2 linked regions of the Homo sapiens genome follow. The protein of the gene in region 2 interacts with the protein of the main gene of each other region in a pairwise test. Each region holds a gene or a part of one and is shown on either strand. Other genes may lie near its edges.

What was found.
Region 1: the proteins of WDR4 (region 2) and CDC42BPB interact in a two-hybrid assay, tested with the Homo sapiens proteins (one large-scale study listed by BioGRID and IntAct).

What each region holds. Positions count from the first base shown.
Region 1 is NC_000014.9:102,963,550-102,967,049, forward strand, and holds part of CDC42BPB (serine/threonine-protein kinase MRCK beta), read right to left. Parts: coding exon 3,497-3,500; intron 2,839-3,496; coding exon 2,733-2,838; intron 1,102-2,732; coding exon 953-1,101; intron 1-952. UniProt on the Homo sapiens protein: Serine/threonine-protein kinase which is an important downstream effector of CDC42 and plays a role in the regulation of cytoskeleton reorganization and cell migration. Regulates actin cytoskeletal reorganization via phosphorylation of PPP1R12C and MYL9/MLC2.
Region 2 is NC_000021.9:42,848,726-42,852,132, forward strand, and holds the end of WDR4 (tRNA (guanine-N(7)-)-methyltransferase non-catalytic subunit WDR4), read right to left. Parts: intron 1,518-3,407; coding exon 1,324-1,517; 3' UTR 501-1,323; downstream 1-500. UniProt on the Homo sapiens protein: Non-catalytic component of the METTL1-WDR4 methyltransferase complex required for the formation of N(7)-methylguanine in a subset of RNA species, such as tRNAs, mRNAs and microRNAs (miRNAs).

The DNA of each region.
Region 1 (3,500 bases), on a different chromosome or scaffold from region 2:
CACGGGTAGCCTTGCAATTCCAGCAACTTCGTGCAGGGGACAGAGGAAGTCAGGCTGCCACGGGGAACACCTGGCCGGGAGGGATGCAGTTTGTGGGGGCTGGTCCACTCATCAGTGGGGTGACAGTGGGCAAATCACCTGCGGAGTGTGTGTAAGTGGGAGTAACAAGACTGCCTACCCTGTTGGGCTGTGGGAGGGTCACAGGATTTAACAACAGAACAGTCTTACAGCAATTCCCAGTATAAAGAAAGTCAATTTAACTGAAACCTATTACCATTAATTTTTTAGCCCCAAACTAACAGGATTTGGGACTTGGTAATTCTGTTAGAGACACTGTCCCTTCCAGGTCCTCGCCTGCCTCATGGCACAGCAGAGCTGGCCTGGTTTTTATGAAACTGACGTTCATTATCGTATCCTCGTAAAACCAGATCTGCAAAGAGGAGACTCTCAGCAAATACTGACTGAATCACTGCTGTGTGAAAATGGCGTTCTCGTTACTGCTTGGAGTTAGGGAAAAATTTCAAGTGAGAATGCCATCTTCAACCTCTGTTTTAAAATATTCACGTTAGCTTGAAAGGAACAATCTTGAATTAGTGAATGGAGCGGCACGGAGGTGACTAAGCAGTGAGAGGGGCTCCTGTCAGACAGCGGTGTGAGTCTCGCTACCCAGCGTGGGGGCACAAGCACCCGCTGCCGTCAAAACACGGCTCGCACCGCACCACACCCCCCCGCGGCAGGCAAGGCCCTGCACCCTCGCGGCCACCTCAGTGCCAGAACGGCCTGCTATTCGGGGCTCCTGCAGGTGAACCCGACGTGCTGCCTCCTAAGGCTCCAGCAAACGCCGTGGCCCCGATTTTCCAGGCGAGGAGCATCGGAGCCCGTGAGGCTCAGGGCGGGCTCGAGGCCACACAGCCACTGCTCCTACCTGGAGTCAGACCCTGGCACCAAGTACCTTTCCAAGGTGAGGTTGGCGTCCTTGACCTTCCTGAGCTCCTCCTGGACAAGCTGCTTGGCCCGGATCTCCGCCTCCAGGGCCGACTGCAGCTCCAGCCGCGCGGACATGTCCAGCTTCTGGCTGCGGCGCACCTTCCACAGCGGGTCCTTGAGACACGGTCATGGCGTTAAAAATGCATTTTCAGTTATCCGCTTGTTAAACTAATGTTAACAAATAAGTTATCTTTGTCTAACCTTAAGCCATTACGGTCTCATTTAGATATTAACTCTAAATTATGGAGGTGCCTCAGGAGTTTTAGTTTTGATATTTTATGACTTTTTTTACTCTTCCTCAGAAATCTTCTAAAAAATAACTAAATAATTTACTTTATCTTTTAGAAGAATAAAAGTGATTCTGTAGTGCAATTTCTTTTCTTTTCTTTTCTTTTTTTTTTTGTTTGAGATGTAGTTTCGCTCTTGTTGCCTAGGCTGGAGTGCAATGGCGTGATCTCAGCTTACCGCGACCTCCGCCTCTTGGGTTCAAGCGATTTTCCTGTCTCAGCCTCTCCAGTAGCCAGTAGCTGGGATTACAGGTGCCGCACCACCATGCCTGGCTAATTTTTGTATTTTTAGTAGAGACAGGGTTTCACCACGTTGGCCAGGCTAGTCTCCAACTCCTGCTCTCGTGATCCACCCCCCTTGGCCTCCCAAAGTGCTGGGATTACAGGCATGAGCCGCTGCGCCTGGCCTCTGTAATGCAATTTCTATATGGGTCCACTGGACCCTGGACCCTTTTACAAACCTAAGGTACATTATAGGGTTCGGTTATCTTTTTCTCATAACTTGAAACGTTTTGCTATTTCACCATCCTGGGAATTATGTCATTACTCATTCCTACCTGTGATTAAAAAAAAAAAAAAAAAAAAAAGACTAAAATAATAAGGGAAGAATGACAGAGTGACCTAGGATGAAGCAACAGTGGAATAAGCCAGTTCACTAACATCATCCTCCTGTTTTCTTACTGAGTTGCCCAATGTATGACATCAACTTTCGAGAGGTATCAAAGAAGTCCAGAGATGCCATCTTGCTGTTTTTTCTTTTTTAAAACAAACTGAAAACCTTTCATTGAACACAATTGAGAATGCTTCATTTTCCATCTATAACAGTAAAGAGAAGAAAATGGACAGAGGAAGGCCAGGTGTGGGGGCTCATGCCTGTAATCCCAGCACTTTGGGAGGCCGAAGCGGGCAGATCACCTGAGGTCAGGGGTTTGAGACCAGCCTGGCCAACATGGTGGAAACCCGTCTCTACTAAAATACAAAAATGAGCCAGGTGTAGCGGCACACGCCTGTAATCCCAGCTACTCGGGGGGGCTGAGGCAGGAGAATCACTTGAAGCCGGGAGGCGGAGGTTGCAGTAAGCCGAGATCACGCCACTGCACTCTAGCCTGGGCAACAGAGTGAGACTGTCGCGGGAGGAAAAAAATAAAATACACACATCACTAAATGAACCAATGAAATTAATAAAAGCAAGCTCTCTGAGGGCAGAATCCAGTCTTAACTTGACACCACGGAGCTCAGTGCTCAGTAATTATTTGCTAAACGAATGAATGCTGTCGAGAGAAGCCATGATGATCTGAGAGCTGGCAAATGTTGGCGTTCCTTAAATTGGGGAACTGGTTACACAGAAGTCTCTTGCATCACTGTAATTCCCTAAATAGTACTTATATGTCACATTTATACTTAAAACCATTAGCGAATTATTCAGTAATAGAAATGCAGGCATTACACAAAACCTACCAGTGTTCTTGACCCCAGACTAGAACTCCTCAAAGCCTCGAGCTCTTCGGTCATCTTGGAAGCAAGAGCTTGAAGGTAACCCCGGGCATCTTTCTCGTCACTGACCCTGGAGGAGGGAACAGATGTTCTATCTCACGAAGCATGGCTATCAGGGAGAAGCCAAACAAGAAGGGGACGTTCCCGCCTTCCTCGGCACACAGTGACACAGTGTCACGTCAGCTAGAGTGCCCGCAGTGTACCCGTTGTATACACGGGATCTCATTGATGGATGCGTCGTTACATTGCACATGACTGCAGTTTAAAAAGACACCAAACTTCCAAGACTCAAGAATGAAAAAATTCTATTACTCCATAAATATATATACCTACTACGCACCCACAAAAATTAAAAATAAAAACTCTTTTTTTAATTACAACTTCACACCTTAGGAGCGGAGGGCCAGGTCCCAGCTCGCTCCAAGTCTCCCTGCTGCTTCTGCAGCCGCTTTGGGAGGGCTCTGCCTCCCCTGTCTCTGAGAACGCAAGGGGTGTGAACGGTTTGCCCCAAGTCCTTCAGTGGGTTGGTGGGGGCGTATCTCCACCTCTATTCCAACAGAACCACTGCCCCAGACATGAGAAGTTCTGGGGAACAGCAGTGAGACCTGCACCCCAGCCTGAGAGGCACGGCCTGGCGTGGAGCACAGGATCAGGCAGAAGAGGCGGGGCAGACCCCATGGACTGAGCAGGGAGCGGATTCACGGCCGCTAATGGGGCCGCGCACGTACCACT
Region 2 (3,407 bases):
ATCACACGGCGCGCACCTCACACAGCACACGATCACGCGGCGCGCACCTCACACAGCACACGATCACGCGGCGCGCACCTCACACAGCACACGATCACGCGGCGCGCACCTCACTCACAGCACACGATCACACCGCGCACCTCACACACACAGCGCACGATCACGCGGCGCACACCTCACACAGCACACGATCACGCGGCGCGCACCTCACACAGCACACGATCACGCGGCGCGCACCTCACTCACAGCACACGATCACGCAGCGTGCACCTCACACACAGCGCACGATCACACCGCGCACCTCACACACACAGCGCACGATCACGCGGCGTGCACCACACACACAGCGCACGATCACACCACGCACCTCACACACACACACAGCGCACGATCACGCGGCGCGCACCTCACACAGCACACGATCACGCAGCGTGCACCTCACACACACACAGCGCACAATCACACCGCGCACCTCACACACACACAGCGCAGGCACCAAGGAGTTTTGCCTGGTATATTCGGTTGCTGCTAAACATTCCTAGGAAGTTGAGAAGGTTCATCCTTGCTGATCGGTGATTGAAATTCAGCAACATCCCTGTGGCTCTGCAGTGTGTGCCAAGGTCAAATCAAATCATAACGACGTCCTCAATCACCTCCCTGTAAACCGGGTGCCAGCCAGGCCCGTGCTCACACTTCCTGAAACAAGTTCACCATCTGTGCCACCGATGCCAGACAGAGCTCCCTGCGACTCCGAAACGTGTTTCTCACTTCCCACAAGGGAGCCACTCTCCAGGAGCAGCTCCTGAGCACAAGGGCTACGGCTGGGGCTGGGGCAGGCTCAAGCATTCGTGCTGAGTTTCAACAGCCTGTGTGGCGAGCAGCTACTGCGGGACAGCACGTCACCTGGATGCTGAGACGGCGGAACAACATGAAAACATCCACCATGCCAGAAACGTCAGCCCACAGATGCTCCTAGAGGAAGATGCAGCGGACACGAAGGGCGGTATGAGAACAGGAGAAACACAGACAGCTGCCGCCACCACCGGCTCACACGCAGCCTCCGACATGAAAAGAAAGTGCTTCAAGAGCTTCCACTCCACTGGTCTGGCTTCCCTTCAACCAGAAAGGGGGCACAGGCACCCAGCAAGAGCCTGTGCTGGTGACACAGAATGTTCTTTCTAGAGCCCAGGGGACAGCCCCATCCTCTGAGCTGGTCACAACTGATGTCACCTTTTCCTTCTTGAAGGGACATGCCAGGATGCAGGGGAACAAGTTAAAAAGCTTTTCCTAATTTGAGGTGAGAGACACCACTGACCGCCACGATCAGCAACTTAGCGTCGCCTCCCCCGGTCTCATCTTCTTGGCATGCCCGTCGGGCCCAGGCGGGGGACTCCGGCGCCGCTGCTTCTTCTCTAGCTGCTGCTGCAGTCTCTCCTCTTTCTTCTTCAGGTAGGAGGTCACGTTGTCGAACGTGGCCTTGTAGAGACTGCTGAAGCTGGCGTCTGCGCCGGCAGAGCCTGTGATGGGGGAACAAGGACAGGTGCCAGGTGGGGCAGGAACATGGGACTCGGCCACCACAGCGGGCCCCCTGCAGCAGGGAGTTACCTCGTGACTCCCAGAGTCCTCGGTGGACCGTGGGGGGCGCCTTCTGGGACGGCTCCCCACGGTGCCCACCTCCTGGGACCCACACCCTGGCTGGACCTGAGGACTGGCTACTAACAGAACGGGGCAAAGATGAAAGAATGTAATGGAAACCAGGGCACCAAGGCTGGGCCTCCACCCCGCCAGCACTCTCTGCTTGCACGCCCGGAGAAAGCCACTACTGCACCATGAGCCGCCCTGTGGAGGGGCCCAGGTGGCAGGGGACCAGGAGCAGCAGCCTCTGGCCAACAGCCAGAGAGGCCCCCTGTCCTGCCGACAACCCAGACTGAGTGAAGTCGGGCCCTGCCTGGTGAAGCTGAGATGGCCACCTGCAGAGACACAGCTCAGCTGAGTCCGGACCCCTGACCCACAGCAACAGTGAGACAGTAAGGGTGGGGTGCCTTAAGGCATCGAGTGTGGGATAGCATGTTCTGCCGCCACAGGGAATGGACACGGATTTCATCTACTTTATCTAAGTGCCAAGGATTGGGGGCAATGACTGACCACAGGCACACGGAGACAGCCTCAGCCTGGCCAGGAAACCACAGGCCCAGCCGGTAACCCGCGCACCAGCGACTGCCTGAAGCCTGCCCATCCAGCAGGTGGCGCAGCCTCCCCGCCCCTCCAGCGACTCTGCTGCTTGTGGGACACTCTAGCAGCAGCCCTCCCCGGTCCCTCTCCCAACGCAGGCCCCCAAGTCTGCGCCGGGAACAGGCTGCTCTATCTATGGAACATCTCAGGAGAGCGAGCCCAGGCTTTGGCCTGAGACTGTTGTGCAAGGTGACACTCAACAGGTCTATGCTGTCCGTGGCCTAGAGCACGGGGGCCATGAGCACTGCAGATGCCCGGCCATGAGCACTGCCGCCTGCAGTCCCTGACACAGCCAGTGACAGGCCCACTCTGAAGTGTTCCTAAAGCAGATCCCAACCACGCTGGGGGGCCCAACCCTGCCCGTCTCAACCCTCAACATCCTAAGCAAAGCAGGAGGGAGAGAAGCCTCAGAGGCAGAGCCAGCGTGCCGCCACTCGGGGAGCCTGGCAGAAGGCGGCTGGGCCCCAATCAGCGGAAACTCCTCCGACCTCAGTGTGAATCCCTCCAGAGCTCCAAGGAACCTCAGTGCTCACTGCAGTGGGGTTTAGCTTTGCAAGACTTCAGAGCAGCAACTTCTTGTCGTGAATGAGGCACCTGGATTCCATGCTGGGCTAATCCATCCTGCAGACACCATCACCTCCAAGACTGCAAGGTGCTGGCACAACGACGCACCCAGAACTACAGTGTGTCGTGTCCCCAGAAGGCAGGGTAGAAAATGTTCGTCCAGCTCCTCCCTCAGCCTGGCTGCTCTCCTTCCTGCAGCCGCAGCCACGGGAGTTGCTGGCTAGATTCCCTCCCCTCAGCTGAGTGTTCCTGTCAGGACAGTGACCATCCTGCCCCTGCTCAGCCTCCTGAAGACCCCCGGGGCCTCTGGCTAGACCCCCACTAAACCTCCCAGTGAGGCCCTGCACTTACTGACGCCCACTGCAGTGGGATCAATTCCCTCAACACCATGGACCAGGCATGAGGCAGCACAGCACCAGCTCCCTCTGGGAGCCACCAGCTGCCAGCCCTGCCCTGGGGACCTTCAACGCCCAACTCTGAAGGCAGGTGCTCAGACCCTGAGCCCCCGGTTCCTAAGTGGCTCTCGTTAGCCTGACTCCCATGGGGGGCTCCTTCTTCTGCTGTGCGTCACCCACCTCCTGCCCTGCCCCGCCTTCTGGATGGGGACACAC